2 separate regions of the Homo sapiens genome follow, and region 2 is linked to region 1. Evidence: fine-mapped expression QTL. A gene starts in region 1. The other region holds a variant in brackets. All regions are shown on one strand. Distances are from middle to middle. Region 1 holds the start of PLCE1 (phospholipase C epsilon 1). Region 2 overlaps PLCE1 (phospholipase C epsilon 1).

The links. PIP is the estimated chance that this variant, and not a neighbour inherited with it, causes the effect.
Region 2: its variant is fine-mapped to the expression of PLCE1 in pancreas (GTEx, PIP above 0.99).

The regions. Positions count from the first base shown.
Region 1 is chr10:93,988,616-93,999,460 of GRCh38, forward strand. PLCE1 (phospholipase C epsilon 1) reads left to right here and starts at 5,316. Exons shown (of 33, transcript NM_016341.4): 1 at 5,316-5,643. LOC105378438 (a long non-coding RNA gene) reads left to right here. Exons shown (of 4, transcript XR_946215.2): 4 at 4,605-5,104. RefSeq lists a silencer at 5,130-5,419.
Region 2 is chr10:94,257,735-94,268,579 of GRCh38, forward strand. It overlaps PLCE1 (phospholipase C epsilon 1), which reads left to right. Exons shown (of 33, transcript NM_016341.4): 12 at 1,066-1,188; 13 at 1,280-1,416; 14 at 4,760-4,998; 15 at 7,913-7,974; 16 at 8,059-8,224. Among named protein-coding and RNA genes, the nearest start is that of PLCE1-AS1, 24 kb to the right of the region's middle. The variant A/G (reference allele first, on the strand shown) is at 5,678.

The sequences.
Region 1 (10,845 bases):
TTACTTCATACCTTTTCTCTCAAACTTTCTGCATGTCCTACCCCATTCTCAGTCTCATCTGATGACTTTGCTTACCATTTCTTTTTTTTTTTTTTTTTTTTTTTTTGAGACGGAGTCTTGCTGTCACCCAGGCTGGAGTGCAGTGGCACGATCTCGGCTCACTGCAAGCTCCGCCTCCCAGGTTCATGCCATTCTCCTGCTTCAGCCTCCTGAGTAGCTGAGACTACAGGCGCCCGCCACCACGCACAGCTAATTTTTTATATTTTTAGTAGAGACGGGTTTTCACTGTGTTAGCCAGGATGGTCTGGATCTCCTGACCTCGTGATCTGCCCACCTCGGCCTCCCAAAGTGCTGGGATTACAGGCGTGAGCCACCACGTCCAGCTGACTTTGTTTACCATTCCACTGTGAAAATACAGGCAAGCAGAAGAAAACTTTCACGAGCTTCAACTAACTCTACCTACCTCCCAACATTCGTTCCTATTGTTCCAGTTATGAAAGTTATGTAAGGAACTATCCCAAGACTTATGGCCTAAAAGACTGACCATTTATTTGGCTCAAAAACCAGCAATTTGGGCAGGGCATGGCAGGGATAGCTTTGATCTGCTCTACTTACTATTGCTGGAATGGCTTGAAGGTTAGTGACTGGAATCCCTTGGAGGCACATTCACCCACATGTTCAAGGTTGATGCTGGCTGTCAGCTGGGATCATACATGCCTCTCCAAGTGGTCTGGGCTTCCTTACAACATGGCATCTGGGTTCTTGGGTGAGAGTTCTGGAGCAAGATAGGCAAACAAAAGCTGTCTCAACTTCCATGACATAGGTACTCTAGCCACAAAGCATCACTTCTACCTCATTCTATTAGTTAAGGGGCTGCCCATATTCAAGAGAAGGGGAATTAGACTTCACCTGATATCAGTGGCAAGGTTCTAGAAGAGGATGTGGGACTGGAAATATAGCTGCATCTACTTTTGAAAAATACATTCTGTATTCTCTCCTGTTTCTTTAAACTGTGCATTTTGGCCACTAAGAACAACATAAAACCTTAAAAACTACATCTAGAGAAGTCTCCACACCTGAGGCCGGAGTTCAAGACCAGCCTGGGCAACATAGCAAGACATCATCTCTACAAAACAATTTTTTTTTAAATTAGCTGGGCATGGTTGTGCTTGCCTGTGGTCCTAGCTACTCAGGAGGCTGAGGAGGGAGGATCACTTGAGCCCAGGAGTTCTAGGTTACAGTGAGCTATGATCACACTACTGCACTCTAGCCTGGGTGACAGAGCAAGACCCTACCTCGAGAAGAAAAACAAGAAGTTTCTAATGTCTATGCTTTGGAATTCCAGTGTTGCTAAAACTTTTTTTAAAAAATTGTGCTTTTATAATTTTTCATTATGGCTCCTTGAAACAATTTGAGCTGGTCCCAACTTTTGCTGACAACAACTCTGAACCAGGTATTACAATGAGATTCCTGAATGTTTCAAGAAGAAAAAAATGTTCTGTCAAAAGATTGACAAGATTTTGGAATATTCAAAGGGGTTTATGGCCTTTAAATACCATAAGTCTAAATGAAAATAAAAATCTGAGTTTTATTTATTTAAGTAATAAACCTTTATACGTTCTAAGTGTTTTCATATACACTGGCTCATTTAATCCTCACAATTACGCTGAGGGGTACTGTATTAGTCTGTTCTCACGCTGCTCATAAAGCATACCCAAGACTGGGTAATTTATAAAGAAAAAGAGATTTAATGGAATCACAGTTCCACTTGGCTAGGGAGGCCTCACAATCATGGCAGAAGGCAAGGAGGAACAAAGTCACAGCTTACATGGCAGCAGGCAAGACAGAAAGAGCATGTGCAGGAAAACTCCCCTTTATAAAACCATCAGATCTCGTGAGACTTATTCACTGTCATGAGAACAGCATGGGAAAGGCCCATCCTCACGATTCAATTACCTCTCACTGGGTCCCTCCAACAACGGGGGAATTATGGGAACTACAATTTGAGATTTGGGTGGGGACACAGCCAAACCATATCAGGTAGGTACAATTTATCTAGAGGAAAATGAGGCACAGTGAGATAAGTAACCTGTCCGAGGGCTCACAACTTGGGGGTGGATCTGAGCATCCAACTCAAGTGGTCCCACACCAAATTCTGTTCCCCTAACACCGGCTGCGCTGAGAGAGGATGTTTAAGATCATCTTTCCCTGCTTTGCTTACTGTTCCCTGGGGACCCTCACTCCTAACCATGTCACACAGGTAGAGATACCTACAGCTTTAACAAGCTGGTTGTTTTTCATCAACCTCAAACTGCCTTAGTACATCTAACCTCACATACAAGACAACTCTAGGAAGTGTGTTTTTGGCTCTCTGCTCACCATCTGAACTTGCTAGTCTATTTGCAGACAGCTAGTAAGCCCGGTACAGTTTGATGCAGTGACTTTGAAAGGGAGAAAATGGCAACTGCAAAAGCTGAGGGCTGCCTTGTTCCTTCAGTCCTTCCTTGGCCTTTGTGCTACCCAGATGTCTGTTGGCAAATTCCTCTGTTTGACGATCAGCAGCTGTTTGACAAAGATCAATGCATTAGTCAATGGTGCCCACACTGACTACTCAGTTCCCAAACTAATGGTTTGTTTATGAACGGGTTAACTGATGGCTGGCTTGTTGAGTGTGGCAAAGCGCCAATCCTTCTTCTGTAATATGTGCAGTAGAGGGTGTGGGGCCTCTTGTTGGCAACCACCACCATGAAGTCAGAGACCACTGCCCCCACCTCCTTTCTGAAAATTACAGGATAGGGGAGGCAGAAAGAAAGAGGGAAGATGGTTCCGTTTCTTAAAATAATTTTACTACTTAAATTCCCTAGTCTCTATGTTTATCATGTATTTAAATCAATTTCCATTGACTGGAGACCAGTATGTAATGTAATAAGCTCAAAAGACATGTGTGTTTTCTTCTGAAATTTCAAACATAGATGCACTTTACTGAAATAAAGTCTCCACAGGATTGTTTCTTGGGGCTGTTGTTGTTGTCTATGCAGAATGGTCTTGTATAAAGAGATGCATAACTTAGTTTACTGAAGCTGAATTTTCCATGGAAATTATCCAGTGCTTTCCCAATTCTCAGGCGCTTTATCTGACAGTCTTTCTTCCTCTAGATAATGGCTGGCAGCAGCCCACAGAGTGGAGGTTATATGGTGCACTTCTGAAAAAGTCTTGAATGGAGCCATTGTTCCCCTGAGATGGTCTGTGTGTTTCACTGAACAGAGAGCAGGGTGTAAAAAAGGCACCTTGTGTGCAACTGTTGGCGAGGTTGGGGAGTGAATTAAAATCTCCAGAAAGTCTGGGCAGTGCTGTTCAGAGGAGCAATGAACACTCTGGAAGTACTGTTAGCTCAGACATTCCAATGTGGTGAGGCAGCCTCGGGGACACGACTTCCCTCCAATCTCGTTTAGAGAGGGAGCCATGGGGCGAGCAAAGGACACTGATCTGGACCTGCTCTCTTTGCAAAGATTTGAGGAAGGCGCCCCTTTCTAGGGATGGGGCCACAGTGATTATCACACTTGGATAACTTTCCTGCTCAACGGACCTAGATTTGCCTTGCTTACTAATCATGCAATGACTCATTTGGAGGATTCAATGTTAACTGCTTGTGCATCTACCAGTTTGTAGCTATCTATTCCCATGTGCCAAATTAAAAAAAAAAAGTCTTTGGGGGTGCCAGGTGATGGATGAAGTTTGATATTATTTGATCATTAAATGAATTATAAAACCATAATATAATACTGTATATTAAATAAATAGCCTACCTTGTTTATTGTCAGTGATGCTACCTCTTTCCTCAGCCCTTTATTTACTTGTTCAGGATAACATAGCCTCAGGGATTGAGTAAATTACCACTTCTCACTGTCCTAGTGCTAAAATGCCAAGATCTTAAGGAACAAAGAATTTCTTTAGAGCCCTCTGCAGAGACCTTTCTGAAATCAGCTCTCCAGGGAGGCAATCATGTTAGTTTTCATTAAAGTCCTAGTGGTGAGAAAACAGCAAGACAGTTTAAGGACCAGACTGGCAGATTTTTCTTAACAGCAGGATTCTTTGGGCCTCCTGTGCTTTCTTGCTCCAACCTCTCCTGTGTTCTGGAGCCTCCAAGAAGGAGAGATCACTTTTAAGAGGGACCCGAAAGAAAGGGTCAAACATGAGCAGGAGGAAAGTGTGTGGGAGGAGATGCTCCAGGTAGAAGGCTCAGCTTAAGTTCAGGTACAGAGCTAGAGTGGGAGAGACATTCTGTTGGGTGATCCTTATTAGCCAGGGCATGCTGGGTTACACAGCCATGGAGAGTTAGTTTGGAGGGCAATAGGGAGCCAGTGAAGTTTTCTGCATAGATTAAAGTTGTAAAAAAGGAAGAATAATACAGCGGTGGTTTGAAGGATTGATTTGGTCCAAGGGAGAGGACAGTGGGAGGCGATATGGGCCACAGGAATGGGTCCTGATCGGATGTAGGAGAAGAGGTCAGGCCTAGGGAACGGTCTTCCATTAGAACAGGTAGAGGGAGGAGGCACAGGTTTAGGCGAAAGGGAGGAGGATGATGATTTGATTTTTTTTTCCAGGTCCTTGGCTCTCCTAAGACTCATAAAAGCCGCTCCAGCGGCTAAGGAAGTTCTGTGCAAAGCCTGTAGTTTCTAGTTGTGAAGATCTTCAGGTTTGCTTGAGCAATGAAAGAGTACTGGATTTGGAGTCCGCAGTCCTGGATGGCCACCATTACCAGCAAAAGGAGTATTTCCGGAGCCTGGCACAACGCTGGGCACATTGATGGGGCTCAATGAATATGTATTAAATGAACGAGTGACAGAACAGATTCGAGACTTGGTGCTGCCATCTACTACAGAGACCTTGATCGTGTCCTTTATCTGCCGTGAACCTCAGTTTCCATATCTGTCAACCAGGGGTGGTTCCCTGGGGTAGTGTGAGAGTAAATTCCCGCCGCCTGAGGTGTGCAGAGTTCCCGCCCTTCCCGGAGCCGGGCGCCCCAGGAGCGCTCTCTCTGGCTCCCGCCAGAAAGGATGGCTCCTAGGGGTCAGGGCCAGGGGTCTGGGAAGGGGTCGCGCCGCCAGCAGCCAGCTCCGGGGGAGGCGGCCGGGTCCTCGCTCCGCGCCCGCCTTCCCCGCGCGGCAGGAGCCGGGGGCGGGCCCGGCACAGGCCGCTCCCCCGCCCGGCCGCCCGCGGTGGCGCTAGCGGCCTCTCACCCGGGGCGGGCGAGTTCTGGGAAAGCCCGGCCCAGGGCGGGGGCCCCGCTGCCGCCCGCGCAGCCGCCGCTGTCCGGGCAGCGCGCACATCTCGGCGGGAGCGGACTGTGAACGGCGCGGGTCCACACGGTAACGCTGGGCAACGTGGGCAACGCGGCGGGCGGCGGGCTCGCGCGGCGGGAGGGGCAGCGGCGGCGCGCCCGGGCTCTACCTCCCGGGCTCTGCCTCCCGGGCTCTGCCTCTCGGGCACTTGCCTGGCTCCTGCGCGTTCCTGGGCATCGGCTCTGCAGCTGACACACAGTAGCGGGGACACCCGACGCCGCTAGCGACAGGCGCGCGGACGGCTGGTCCCAGAGGGACGCTGCGCTTGGGGACGCCGGCGAGACTCGCCAGGAGCCAAGAGGTGAGGAAGCGACTCTGTAGCTCGGTTCCTGAGGACTGGAGAAAGGGAAGGATGGGCTGGTTCTCTCCCAAGGCAGTCGACCCGCCTAAGGGAGCAGCCCGACTCCGCGTACCTGGCGGAAAAGTGTCCTCGCGCTCCCGGGGGACCCGAGGCGGGCGGTCCTCCAGGGCATGCAGGCCGCCCTCGCAGGGGCTAAAGGACACCCTGCCAGTGCCTTCACTCCAGACGCCTGCCTCAGGTCGCCCCTTCGTGTTGTGAATACGGTGTGGAGGTGGCCAGTGCAAAGAAAAACGTAAGCTCTTTTTGTGGCGGTACTTAGCAGCGGTATTTCAAGGAAAGTGCTCAAGAGATTGTTCCTGGAGAGATTTGTGTACATCAAGTCCTAGAAAATACAATATTGGACCAGGTCCCGCTCTAACTGATAACTAGAATAGCTAGCTTTGCCTTCAAGTCCTTTAATGCTACAGTAATAAATACACTAGAGCAAGAAGTCTTCTGTCGTGGCGAATGTTAGGTGCACAGCGTAAATTTGTGGAAGCTTTCGCCCCTCGCTCTGTATTTAAGCCATCAGACACTGAGTTCAGCCGACTTAACCAATTATTCAGTGTAAGACTCATTTAGTGATTAATCAGTGTCATTTTAAATAGTGAGTTCCCTGAATACCTGTTAAGTAGGATTCACGTCTTCGAAAAGTTTTATTTGCACGAAGGTCATAATTTCAGTTGCATTATGCAAAATTTGCCCGTAGGTCTTTTAGATCTCTGCAGGATTGGTATGTTTTCATGTTTCTTATACCCCCCGTAGAGGTAGGGCAGGGCCGCTGCCACAGAATGGGCACTACTGAGGCCAAGAATGCTTGACCCCACTAGGGAGAATTTTTGAGAGCCTGACTTGGGAGGTGGAAGCAGGTGACCCCATAGGTGCTTGTACAGGTGCCCAGTTGTCATTGAGGAGAGAGGTGGACTATCTCTAGGTTATTGTATGCATCGATGTCTTCATAAATACTTTTCTGAAGAATGTCTGATGGTGTTGTCATCTAGACCATCTGATGGCACATCTTCCCCCACATCCACCACTCTAAAGTCTAACCATCCTTCAAACTGTGTTTTGCTGGTGGTGTGAGGCTTTTCCTGAAACAGCCAACCTCCCCCTGCTCTGATTTCTGCAGCATTTTTTCTCCAGGGCCCTTTCTGCTCTCTACCTTCTGGGAGTTATTTATGTAGATGTCTCATTTTCCCTACTGAAGGCATTTGCTGTGGCTTTCATGGCAAAATGCTTGCACCTAGAAGACTCTAGAGATAATTGTGGGCCAGTATTAAATCTTAAGACTTTGGTTTTACAACATAAATATCTACTTTGGAGAAGGAGATAATATAATTGAAAGGAGCTAGAGGAATGTATAATGTTTACCATTAACACTATCCTTTATTTACAGCCCCATGGGGGAAATTCCCTTTATACCCAGGAGCCATGTCTTACCAGGTAAGAAGCCAGATTGAACTGGAGGGACATTCTTCCAGTCCTCTTAGTAACATAAACTCCTGGGATGTGGTCCAAGTTTGACCTGTCATTAAAAATTCCATACTCCAGTGGGTTAGAAGCTAGATTCCAATGAAGGCGGTTGGTTTTGTTTTTCTATTTACAACCATTCTTAGTCACATTCTTCTCTGGGCTTTTGTTGTATACTTTAAAAAAACTGTTTGATGTGCAATTTGTTACCTGTAACTTTCTAAATGAATAAAAGAAGATTGAAAAAATACTGTGCATGGTGGAAGAGTTTTCTAAAGTAGACAGCAGGGGACGTTTCCCATGCCTGGGCAAGAGGAGGGATTTGCACAGAGTGAGGCTTGCTGCACGTGTGTGTGTGTGTGTGTGCGCGCGCGTGTGTGTTCCACACACCTGGCTGACAGGCGCCTATATAGGACAGTTGCTTTAGTCTTAATGCCTTCTCTCTCTGCCGGAACTACTTCTGCGGTGGAAGAACAATAAAACAGAGCTTCTGGGTTCAGAAGGAGAAGCAGAGGAAAAGCCAAAAACAGTAGAAGCAGCTAAGAGTGTGAATTTGTTTGCTGAAGTTGCTTTCCTCCCAACGTTCAGTTGAGATCTGTGGCATTGAGCAAGTAGGGGTTTGGTTGAGGCGAGGGAAGACAGGTGATTAGGAAACATGGTGCTTCTGGAAGAGGGGTGGAAGGTTCTGATAGGGTTTTAGGGAAGCATGTGATTTAGTTATGTAAGGCCCAAAGAGGAGAGTTGGAGATGGAGGAGTAGGGAATGGAGAAAGAGAGGAAGACGATATCAAAGATGCATTTTGTTATAGGCCAACCATGTGGCCTACAAAGAAGGGCAGAACTCTCTCTAGCATCATGTGTTCCTCTCTGCTCCCTGGATGCAGAATGCAGGGTTTTTACCGAGGCTATAATTCATCTGTGTTATGGCTTAAATAGATTTTCGTGGGCCAGATTGGGAACCAAGCCCTCGGAGGCTACATTGTCCAACATGGTAGTCACTAGCCACATATGGCTATTTACATTTGAATTGAAATTAGTTAAATGAAATTAACCACCCATATTTCAAGTGCTTGATAGCTACATGCAGCTAGTGGCTACTGTATTGGACAGTGCAGATATAGAACATTTTCATCATCTCAGAAAATCCTTCCCTAGAGGATTGTTTCAAAGGGGTAATTCCTATTAATCTCCAAAGTGTACTGGTTTCCAAATGAAATTTAGTCATAACTTTAAAGTTTCCAAATTTTACATGAAAATAATAGAAGTTGTTGTTGGTAACACTATGGTGCTTACTACATGCCAGGCACCACTCCAAGAACTTTTATCAATTAACGCATTTAATTTTTATATATTACTCAGTCAATGTGAGAGATCTTATCCTTTAGCTGTATTTCCAAAATCAAAAAAGCTCTAAAAACTGTGATTTTCATAAATTTGGCTACAAAACTTGGTCTGAAGTGACGTGAGGTTATGACAGTCTTTATTTTTCTCACTTGGTGAGAACTACACATATATTTTTACTTCAGAAATTATGGGCATATTTTATTTGCTGCAGATACCATTGAAAGTGTTATGTAAGATATGGCATATGCATTTTTACCATTACAAAATCCATAAAGCTTCTGAATCACAGTTGGCTGGCTGCTCAGAATTTGGATTAGGGAGTGTGGACTTCCATGATTATGCCCATTTTGAAGATGGGAAAACTGAAGCAACGAAAGGTCAAGTGATTTGCATAAAGTCACAGCAAGGAAGTGCCAGTGTCAGGAGCCAGTCAAAGTGGGCTGTCTCCAGAGTCTGTTCTCTTGATCACTGTGCTATCCTACATTAACCTCTGGGCTCATGACCCAAAACAAATAACCATCCTTTTTTTTTTTTTTTTTTTTTTTTTGGTTAGGTGAAACCTAATAGCTTTAACTCAGCTCATTAGAAAGTTTCAGATAGTGATCTGGCTAAATTGTTTAGCAGTTGAGGTTTTGAAATGCCATGGATAGTTCAACCACCGTAATAGACGTGCTTAGCAATTGTTTAGCTTGCCCCTTTCCACCCTGTGTCAGCCACACTTGTTTTTGAGCATTCACTGTGTAAGAACTGGTAGGAAAAGAGGTGGGTACTGGTGAAACCATTGGGCTCATGTTGAAATCTTTGGCATGTGGGGGCTTACATATTCATAACTGTTATGGGGTGGAGGGTGGCCGGTGGTTTGGTCCTAGTATAGATCAACTGTTACAGGCGAGGGCCATTTGGTGGACTACCAGGATTGTAAGCCCTCCTGGCGTGTTTTTGGAGGGTCTGCATCAATCTGACTCAGTCGGAAGTCTTTCTAGGGAAATTGAATTCCTCTTTTCTTGTGGGAGTTCGACTGGAACTGCAAGGCTGGTCTGGGGGCAAGAATGGACATTTCATTTCTCCTCCTCAAGTAGTGGCAAGCCTCAGTGATCTCTTCTTAGATTTTGGTCCAAACCTGCCTTTGAAGAAATTATTGAGTAACCCCAAGGTTTCTCCTTTGAGTAGGAGGAGATGTTCTGGACATTTGACCTTTTGTGTGTAGTTTAGCGTGGCCTCTGCAGGACCCCCTGTCTCTTTGCAGCCAGGGGGCATGTATACCTCTTGCGGCACAGTCTCTGAGGCCCCTAATGATCTTTCCCCACCTGACTCCCTGAATCCAGTTATCATGGCTTAAGGTATAGAGCCTGGACACTCTATTCGTAAATACAAGATTCTCTAGAATCAAATTTCCCTGGGGTTTACCTAGTACAACCTTGGATGAGCAACTGACCTTTGCGTAAAATAGCAATAGTAATTGTACAGGGTTGCTTTGAGGCCAAAGTGAGATGGTTCACCTAAAGCACTTTGCATAGAGACAGACACATCCTGAGTGCTCAAAGTTAACTACTAATATTACTGTTTCTTCCCCCAGGGCTCCTCAAGTCTTCCCAGTCTGCAGTGTTAGGTTTTGGGGAGGTGGAGATGGTAGGCTAGATCATGATCTACCAAAGATGTCCAAGTCTGAATGCCTGGAACCTGTGAATATGTTACTTTACGTGACAAAAGGGACTTTTACAGATGTGATTAAATTAAAGCTCTTGAGATGATCCTGGATGATCTGGGTGGGCTCAGTCTAATCTCGAGTGTTCTTAGAAGAAGGAGACAGGAGTGATGTGAGCAAGGGGTCATGAGCCAAGCCTCTAGAAGCTGGAAAAGGAGAGAAAATGAGTTCTTTCCTAGAGCCTCCAGAAGGAATGTAGCCCTACTAACCCATTTTAGACTTCTGACCTCCAGAACTGTAGGGTGGCACATTGGTATTATTTAAACTACTAAGTTTGTGGTCATTTGTTGCAGCAGCTGTAGGAAACTAATACAGCATGGAAGAATAAAGAGAAAGCAGTCAGGAGTGAGAAGAAAGCTATCAAAATAAGAGAATGATAATATAGCTAGCATTTAGTAAGAGCTTCGTACTAGGTATTGTTCTAAGCAATTTATAGGTACTAACTTGTTTAATCCCCACAACCCACTTTCTGAGGTAGGTACTTTTATTATCTGCATATCACAGATGAGGAAACTGAGGCACTGAGAGGTTAAGTAACTTACCCAAGGTCACACAGCTAGTATGCAGGAGATCCGGGATGTGAGTCCAAGCATTCTGGCACTCTTAACTGTCACCCACACTACTCCCAAAGGCAGGCATTTCTGG
Region 2 (10,845 bases), 270 kb after region 1:
CACAGGGCGGGGAATATCACACACCAGGGCCTGTTGTGGGGTGGAGGGAGGAGGGAGGGATAGCATTAGGAGATATACCTAATGTAAAGGACGAGTTAATGGGTGCAGCATACCAACATGGCACATGTATACATATGTAACAAACCTGTACATTGTGCACATGTACCCTAGAACTTAAAGTATAATTTAAAAAATAGATCCTGTTCATTAATTTGACTACAAACCATAATCAAAACATCTCTCATACCATTGTGTCAGGAAATCAGTATAGAAAATAAAAAATGTTGTGAAACAGTAAGTCTGTTCTGAGTTGACTGATATTTCTACATTGAATAGATGCAGCCTTGGAAGGTGCAAATATAATCCTAGTCAAAGCTGGCTTTTTTCCATTCTTTTTTAAATTTTCTAAAATTAGAGACAGTGCCTCACTATGTTGGCCAGGCTGGTTTCGAACACCTGGGGTCAAGCAATCTTCCCACCTCAGCCTTCCAAAGTGCTGAGATTATAAGCATGAGCCACCGCACCCAGCCCTTTCCATTCTTAACATTTTTCCGGTTCACATTTTTCATTAATATTTAAAAGCTCTTCTCTGTTTTCATCTAAGGACTGGTTAAGAAAGGAATCAGACAATACACTCAAAGGTTTCTTCTTAAATGTAATTCTATAACTTAGAATATAGAAAAGAACGTGCATTATTTCCCATAGATTAAGAGTGAGTAATTTGGGGCTCTTTTTAATAGACATCTTCAGAAACACTGAGTTATTTTGCCCATTGATCTGCAATTTCAAAGAACTGATTTGATTAATAGAGGAATATTAACCTCAGCCCTGGGCCCTTATTAAATAGACTAGAAACATGTTTTCTTTTTCACATAGAACATGTTTTATTTCCTCTGATACAATATAGGTTAAGAGATGTGAAAAGAGAGTACTGGAAAATAGCTTCAATCTTAAATAACTTGCACTCATCCTTTTGCTCATATTGCTAATTGGAGCAAGTCTGGTGGGACAGAATCACAACAGTGGCCTGCCCTTGTGCCCATGAAGGCCTTGTCTTTGTTGCAGTGCTTGGAGCAGTAGTAGCTGGCACGGGCGGATCAAAGGCGGCATGAAGGGATTTCAGAGCTTCATGGTTTCAGATAGCAACATGAGTTTTGTTGAATTTGTTGAGCTGTTCAAATCATTCAGGTACAGTCTTATGTTTCCTTCTTATTCTTTCTCAGGCCCCCCCATTTCTATAAAGATACTCAATGAGAGGTGTTTTCCATTCCTCATTCAGTGTCAGGAGCCGCAAGGACCTGAAGGATCTGTTTGATGTCTATGCAGTGCCCTGCAACCGATCTGGCTCCGAGTCAGCCCCACTCTACACCAACCTGACAATTGATGAAAACACCAGCGATCTTCAGCCTGACCTAGGTTTGTTGAACATTTTAGGATTTCCCTTTGGGATCAATCTGTCTAAAACTTAAGGTCAGAGGTCCAGTCACACAAACTCTGAGCCTGTCCCACATAGTGTGCTATTACTGCTGTGTAGGGAAAGACTTAAGAGAATTTTTTTTTTTTTTTTGAGATGCAGTCTCACTCTGTAGCCCAGGCTGGAGTGCAGTGGTGCAATCTCAGCTCACTGCTACCTCCACCTCCCGGGTTCAATTGATTCTCCTGCCTCAGCCTCCTGAGTAGCTGGGACTACTGGCATGTGCCACCATGCCTGGCTAATTTTTTGTATTTTTAATAGAGACAAGGGTTTCACCATGTTAGCCAGAATGGTCTCGATCTCCTGACCTCGTGATCTGCCACCTCAGCCTCCCAAAGTGCTGAGTTTACAGGCATGAGCCACCTCACCTGGCCAACACTTAGAGAATTATTTTAAGGTGTCATCTGGTGTTGAGGGAGCAGGTGCTACTGGCATTTTGAGCAAAGAAATTCATCATTGTGTGGTTCTGCCCATGTATTTATTTAACCAATAAAGCCTTCCAGTCATTCTGACAACCAAAAACCCTTTCCCGACTATATTAGTCCATTTTCATGCTGCTGATGAAGACATACCCAAGACTGGGTAATTTATAAGGAAAAAGAGGTTTAAGGGGCTCACAGTTCCACCTGGCTGGGGAGGCCTTACAATCATGGAAGAAGATGAAAGGCGTGTCTCACATGGCAGCAGACAAGAGAACTTGTGCAGGAAAAACTCCCCTTTATAAAACCATCAGATCTCATGAGACTTATTCACTATCATGAGAACATTTTCACATGGGAAAGACCTGCCCCCATGATTCAACTACCTCCCACCAGGTCCCTTCCACAACATGGAATTGTGGGAGCTACAATTCAAGATGAAATTTGGGTGGGGACACAGCCAAACCATATCACTGACCATTTCCAAATGTCTGCTAGGTATGTGGTGTGTGTCACAGTGGAGAACCCCCAGTCTCTTCCCTACCTACAGACAGTTGTGTGTTCAATCACAGGGCAGTAGTCTCCTGCCCTTTGACAAGGAGAGTCTTTAGCGCCTTCCACAGGGTACTTCTGTCTGAATGATTGTCCAGGATATATTTCCTACTGTATAAACAAGAATGTCTCATTCTTCTATCTCACTCACCACCACCACCATTACTATCACCACCCATGCATTTTCTAACCACTTATGCATTTCCAGCCTATCATTTTCCTCCTCTGTTCTTCCTGGAAACTATAAACACAAATAGCAAAACAAAAAACTTTCCTCTTTTATGCAGTTGCTTCATAATTATTTATAAGTTTATGTTGTCCTTGAGCTAAGACTATTAAGTATTGTTCAACTTTAGTCATAAAATCTCCATAACCATGGATTAGTCAAGTAGTTACATTTTTCAAAAATTATTGGACTTTATTTTTTGTTCTATTATATTTTATTATTTTATTATTTATCATGATTTTCATGTATTTTTTATTTTTGTTTTATTTTAAAATATTATTATTTTAAAATAATGTAATTTTTTGTAGAGACAGGGTCTTGCTCTGTTGACCAGGCTGCTCTCAAACTCCTAGCCTCAAGCAATCCTCCTGCCTCAGCTTCCCAAAGTGCAGGGATCTTAGGCATGAGCCTCCATGCCCAGCTTAGACTTTATTTTTAGAGCAATTTTAGGTTTATGGAAAAATGAGTGGAAAGTACAGAGTTCCAATATACTCTCTTCTACTCTCCCACACAGACTTTCTTCTGTTAGTAATATCTGGCATTAGTGTAGTACATTTGTTACAATTGAGTTAATATTGATATATTATGATGAACTGAAGTCCATAGTTAACGTTAGGATTCACTGTTTGTGTTGTGCATTCTATGGGTTTTGACAAATGTGTAATGACATGTATCCACCTTTACAGTATCATACAGGACAGTTTCACTGCCCTGAAAGTTCCTTATGCTTCATTTTTCCATCCCCCCCGCGACCTCCCTCCAAATCCCTGGCAGCCACTGCTCTTTTTATTATCTCCATAGTTTTGCCTTTTCCAGAATGTCATATAGTTGGAATCACACAGTACATAGCATTTTCAGACTGGCGTCTTTCACTTAGCAATATGCATTTAAGTTTCCTTCCTCCGTGGCTTTTTGCAGCTTGGTAGCCCATTTCTTTTTACCCTGGGTAACATTCCATTTTGCGGAGGTACTACAGTTTGTTTATCCATTCACCTACTGAAGTATATCTTGGTTGCTTCCAAGTTTTAGCAATTATGAATAAAGCTGCTATAAACATTTGTATTCAGGTTTTTGTGTGGGCATAAGTTTTTCCATCATTTGGGTAAATACCTAAGAGTGCAATTGCTGGATCATATGGTAAGCCTATGTTTAGCTCCATAAGAAACTGCCAGACTGTCTTCCAAAGTGGCTAAAATTAAAATGGCCATACCAAAGTTGGTGCGAATGTGAAGCAATTGGAACATTGCAGGTGGGAATGTAAACTGGTACAACCACTTTGGAAGACAGTGTGGCAGTTTCTTACTAAGCTAAACATATTCCTTCCATGTGACCAGCAATTACAGTACTTGGTATTTACCCAAATGAGTTGAAAAATTTATATTCACATAAAAATCTGTAAACAAATGCTTATATTAAACAGTAAAACTGTAATTTTAAGGGTATATCTTCAATCTCTACAAACAAAAATGTGCAAGTAGTTACTCCCTAAAACCAAAGCCTGAATTTCACCTAAGTCCCCAGCTGAACCTACATTTAGTTGCCATGTAATACCACATGGGATATCAAGATCATCAACCTAGCTCTGTCTTCTTTTCCTTTTTTTTTTTTTTTTTGAGACAGACTCTCACTCTGTTGCCCAGGCTAGAGTGCAGTGGCGTAATCTTGGCTCACTGCAACCGCCGCCTCCTGGGTTCAAGCAACTCTTATGCCTCAGCCTCCCGAGTGGCTGGGACTACAGGTGCACACCACCATGCCTGGCTAATTTTTGTATTTCTAGTAGAGACGGGGATTCACCATGTTGGCCAGGCTGGTCTTGAGCTCCAGACCTCAGGTGGTCCACCTGCCTCAGCCTCCCAAAGTGCTAGGATTACAGTCATGAGCCACCATGCTCAGCCTTTATTTATTCATTGATTTGTTTTTTATTCCTATCACTATGTGAAGCCAGAAATAAACACTTCTTTGATGGCTTGTTTAGGTACATTAGTAAAGAGCTTCTCCATTTTAATAACTCCACACCATTATCTCCAAAATGAACTTTGCAAAAGATGCTGGCTATCTTGTCCATGTACTGTGGTGATTCTGTTTCAGATCTGTTGACCAGAAATGTCTCGGATTTGGGGTTGTTCATTAAGAGTAAACAGCAGCTATCGGACAACCAGAGGCAGATATCTGATGCCATTGCTGCTGCAAGCATTGTGACAAATGGCACTGGGATTGAGAGCACATCTCTGGGCATTTTTGGGGTGGGCATACTTCAGCTCAACGATTTCCTCGTGAATTGCCAAGGAGAACACTGCACTTATGATGAAATCCTCAGCATCATCCAGGTTTGTGCCTGTTTTGTGTGTGCATGTGTGTGTGATGCCTCTGGCTATTCTAATAATTTGCTGCTAAATGTTTATTCTTTCTATACTTCTTTCCAAAGCCTTTAAATCTGGGACAGATATACAGTTTTGTTTTTTTTTTTGTTTTTTTGGGTGTTTTTGAGACAGAGTCTTACTCTGTGGCCAGGCTGGAGTGCAGTGGTGTGATCTCGGCTCACTACAACCTCCGCCTCCCAGGTTCAAACGATTCTCCTGCCTCAGCCTCCTGAGTAGCTGGGACTACAGGTGTGCGCCACCACGCCCAGCTAATTTTTGTGTTTTTAGTAGAGATGGGGTTTCACCATGTTGGCCAGGATGGTCTCAATCTCTTGACCTCGTGATCTGCCCACCTCGGCCTCCCAAAGTGCTGGGATTACAGGCGTGAGCCACTGCGCCCGACCTTGTTTTGTTTTGTTTTTTTAACAAAATACCAAGTATGTTTTTTAACAAAATACCAAGTATGGGCTGGGTGTGGTGGTTCATGCCTGTAATCCCAGCACTCTGGGAGGCTGAGGCCGGTGGATCACCTGAGATCAGGAGTTCAAGACCAGTCTGGCCAACATGGTGAAACTGCATCTCCACTAAAAATACAAAAATTAGCCAGGTGTGGTGGTGCGTGCCTGTAATCCCAGCTACCTGGGAG[A/G]GTGGAGCAGGAGAATCACTGGAACACGGGAGGCAGAGACTGCAGTGAGCTGAGATCACACCACTGCATTCCAGCCTCGGCAACAGAGCAAGACCCCATCTCAAAAAAAAAAAAAAAAAGAAAAAGAAAAATCAGCCAGGCATGGTGGTCCACGCTTATAATCCCAGCTACCTGGGAGGCTGAGACACGAGAATCGCTTGAGCCCAGGAGTCACAGAGGTTGCAGTGAGCTAAGATCACACCACCGCACACCAGTCTGGGTAACAGAGCGAAACCCTGTCTCAAAAAAACAAACAAAAAACAAGTATGTAAGTGTTCTTCTTTAACATATTATTAGTGTATTATTACATAATATGTTTTTCTTTAACATATTATATGTTCTTCTTTAACATTATTAGTGTAATAATATTAACATATTATTAGTGTATTATTACATATTAATGTAGGTCCCAGGCTTTCTCTAACTCAGTAACTATTATAAGGAGTTGGTACATAATTTTTTGTTGTTATTCTAGAACATGCAACAGATTTAGTCTAGGTTTTCAACCTCATTAGTCATTAAATGAACATGCACTAGTTCCTACTATGCTGGCTCAGTTTTAGGAGGTGGGAATATAGCAGAGAATAAGATAAAAGTTCTGGTCCTCAATGCAGCTTACATTCTAGAAGGTGAGGCAGACAACAAAGATACGATGTAATTTCAGGTAATAATGGGGTAGGGGAAAAACTGAGTCAAGTAAAGGAATGGAATGATACAGGAGGTGGGCTGAGGAGAGTAAGCAAAGGCCACTTGGAAGAGGTGGCATTTGGACTGAGCCCTAAGTCAATAACCAGTTTGATGGTCTCGGGAAAGAGCATTCCCCACAGGGAGCCACAAGGTCAAAGACCAAGACAGCAGCAAGCTGGGGGTTTATGAGGAACCACAAAAAGCTGGTGTACTGTGAGCTGCACAAGCCAGGCAGAGAATGGCAGGCATGGTGTCAGACAGATGTGCAAGGGCCCAATCATCCGGGCCTTTTAGAGCTTGATAAGGAGGTTGGCTTTAGTCCATGTGAAATGGGATACCACTGAAATTTTTGAGCAGGGGAGTAACATGATTTGATTTTTTTTTTTTTTTTTTTTTTTTTTTGAGACAGAGTCTTGCTCTGTCACCCAGGCTGGAGGGCAGTGGCGCGATCTTTGTTCACTGCAACCTCCGCCTCCCAGGTTCAAGCAATTCTCCTGCCTCAGCCTCCCAAGTAGCTGGGATTACAGGCACACAGCACCATGCCCAGCTAATTTTTGTATTTTTACTAGAGATGGGGTTTCACCATGTTGGCCAGGCTGGTCTCGAACTCCTGACCTCGTGATCCACCCACCTCAGCCTCCCAAAGTGCTAGGATTACAGGCGTGAGCCACCGCGCCTGGCTGATTTATTTTTTATGAGATTACTCTGAGCCACGCATGGTGGCACAAACCTGTAGTCCCAGCTACTCAGGAAGCTGAGGCAGAAGGATTGCCTGAGCCCAGAAGTTTGAGGCCAGGCTGGGCAATATAGTAAGACCCTGTCTCTAAAACAAAATTTTAAGTGGTTACTCTGGCCCCATTGTAAACTGTGTGGGTGAAGGAACAGATGCAGAGAGACTGCTTAGGAAGCTATCATAGTAACCAGCAATAGCTGGTGAAGGTTTACACTACAGGGTGTCAGCAGAGAGGAGCGGTGTGGCTCCATGCAACAAATGAGTCTAGGTTTCAACCTCCCTTATCACCTGACTGGGTATCAGTGTATTAGTTGTCCAGCAGTTGGATTTGATCACCGAAAATGCTAAAATTGTGAGATTACTATCACACTGTTGAGTGCTCATTATGATTTTACTAAATACAGGCATGGCACTAAGTGCTCTATGTGAATCATCTCAGTTCACCTCTCACCAACTTTATGGTAGCTGCTATTATTATCCCCATTTTCACCTGGATAAACTGATACACTTTGTTTTCATAGAAATCAGCCTTCTTTTCTCATTCTCTTCTTTTTTCTATTAAATAAATATGCTTAGTATAATAAACTCACATATAATAAATGTTTTCTTTTGGACTAAAAACTACTTCTTACCACTACGTTACTAAATTAGTTCAAATATTTGGTTTAGATGTTTCCTGATGAAAACAGAACAGCTTTAAAAAATGATGTGGTGGTTTCTTTCCCCCTCTTAGTTTCCTTAACCTAAATAACACTTTTTTTTTTAATCCCTTGCAGAAGTTCGAGCCTAGCATCAGTATGTGTCATCAGGGACTAATGTCATTTGAAGGGTTTGCCAGGTAACTTTTAAAATATCTTTTGCCCATCTTTTAAGAGTAGATGCATTTTTCCCATGCAGTCTTAAGAAAATTTGTTTCACCTAGGTTTCTGATGGATAAAGAAAATTTTGCCTCAAAAAATGATGAGTCACAGGAGAACATTAAAGAACTGCAGCTACCCCTCTCATACTATTACATCGAATCTTCGCACAATACCTACCTCACGGGCCATCAGCTCAAAGGAGAATCCTCGGTAGAACTCTACAGCCAGGTACAGGGAATGCCACTTGGAATGTGGTTTTTATTAAACCTAATTATTTATGTAACCCCCAAAGTCAAAAAAACCTGACCCCAGACTCCTTTGAAGAGCTTATAGAGTAAGCTATTACATGTCAAATGTGAGGAACCATGATGTGTGGGAAAACTGGCTATACTACAGCAGTCGTTTTCTTTACTTCTTTTGTTTTGTTTTCCCCCATCTATACTTAACCTTTATTCTGGGCCAAAATGAAAGTGTTTGTTTGAGACTCATAGCTTTTAGATCCTAGTTAGTCTGACCTACTCCCACTAAAATTAGATTTTCCCATGGGAAAATTATCTAATCGTCTCTCTAACTGCTAAATAATATATTGTAGTGGGAAAGCATAGTAGAAAATGCAACTTCCTATGTACTTATTCCCAAAATATTGTTTGTTTTGCTTTTCAGTTTGTTAAATAATCAATCTATCCCTATGGTAACCAAAAAAAATGCAGAAAAAAATCTACACAGACTTTAGGCACTGTCCCTACACATTAAATTCATCAGAATGTTCTTTGAAACTCAGTAGGTTCTCTAGACTAGAAAAAGTACATCCTTTTGACCTAAACATCCAACTTGCAATGATCTGCGTGTCCATTGCCTCTCTGCTGGATGGTCTGCAGCTTCCTCATCTATTCTGCCTTTTTTCTTAACTCTTTCAAGAAGGGTCAATTCGGTTGGAGCCAGGCAGGGAATATAAGTGTGTCATTGTGTGCACACGTGGGTCCAGGTTTGAAAACTACAGGTGTATTGTTTACATAACCCCAGCACCAGTGAGGTTTCTTTGTTCTCCAGATTAGTCCAGATATTCCTCAAAGCATGGGGCAATTTTTTGTCCCAAAGCTTGCTTAGCGGGAATATGTATTTTAAACTCTATTTTCTAAGGAAACTTTATTATGAATGAAGATGTGTTCTTAGAGCAGTGATTTTCAAAATAGAAGTTCTGTCATGGGGCCTCAGCCCCCCACACTGAGATGAGGAAGCCAGAGAGTAGGAGGGGTGCCATACGCTGCCCCATTTCAGGTAATGTACTACTCCTCTACACACTACATACTGGCCCTCCCTTCGCACACAGAATGCCAAAGTTAAAAGAAGTTTGAAATCCATTATTCTATAGGAATGAAATTAAATATACATATAAATACAGATACTTATATATATTTCATATACACATTTGTAGGTACACACATATACATGCGTGTACATATATGTGTAAGTGCATATATACATATCTATGTATATTTATGTACTTGTGTGTATCCACATTTATCCCAGGGAAATAAACAAGGACCAGTGTCCTGGCTTTAATTTCTATTTCATTCCTCTGTTTGACTTCAAACAGTTTTTAAACCTCTTAATATCACACCCCAAGGAGAGACTCTCACAGCTTTTGAATAAGGCACAAGAACCCCTCAAATAGACTCAGAGATGTGACTAAACCTAGTGTGCAGGTGGATCCCTCTTACTTCATTTCTAACCCCTCTCCACTCTTCCTTAGCCCTTCCTAATTACCTCTTAACATTACTCCATGGGGCAAATGGGAAGTGAGAATAAGCCCTGTTCTTCTCATCTAGAATTTCCAGCCCAGGTTTTCCTCTTCTAGCCATATGTGGATATCTAAGGTTACACAGACTTTGGTGAAGACCTTTAGTCCTTCAATGCTGAAAAGCCATCTCATCTGTTGCCAGTTGCTGAACATTATTCCTGGTCTGGCAGGGGCACCACAGAGATAAGCAGCTTGGTGTTCCAGCCACCATTTTACATAGCAATTTCCAGCCCAAGGCACTGCACCTCTAGATACTCTAGCTGCTGAAAGAAGCAGATAGCCTTGAGATTCTAGGCCACTGACTATGCTGTAAAATAGGAAGAATATAGCACTTATCCCATATAAAAGTGTTAAAATGAGAATCATTCCACTATCTGAGCTTAGTTGCAGAAACTCTAGTGGCCACTAAGCCCCAGTAATGGATTGCTGTCACACAGAAATAGTTATGTGCATTCTAAAATCAGTGGGTAGGCACATTTACAGATGTATCAATTTCTTGGCTTGGGTCACTATTCCAGTATGTAATAATTTTTTAAGATGATGTACAGATCTATGGAGGAAGAGGTTGCTTCAAGCAAACTTTATAGAGTTGCAACCCAAGCACATGTATTGAGCTCTGCTTCCCACTTCAGATCCAGGATAACAAATAGGTATCAGCTCATCTGATTCTTTGGTAGTGTTTTCTGGAGCACTTTAATAAAGAGGTTATGAGCTAACATATTAAAGCTTAAAGGACAAGTGTGCCTAGCTTGATTACTGATGTCTGCTGTGGGTATGGGAGAAAGGAACCATTTATGGATTATTTGCCATCCCTGCTCTAGTTGCTATTCTGGAATTAGATAGCCAGGCAAATCCTTGATAACTCTGCTTCCACTCTTCTTACATGTTATGCATTCACAGCAAAGATGTTTAATCGTGGCTTAATTTGGGTCTTAATGGAAGTGATTTTATCCTGATTGGCTTGCTGTAAATGTTTAGCCAGTTCATTAAGGACTCAGTGGCCTTATTTTCTCTGGGCTGTGGCATCAGCATTTTCACCTCCATTGAT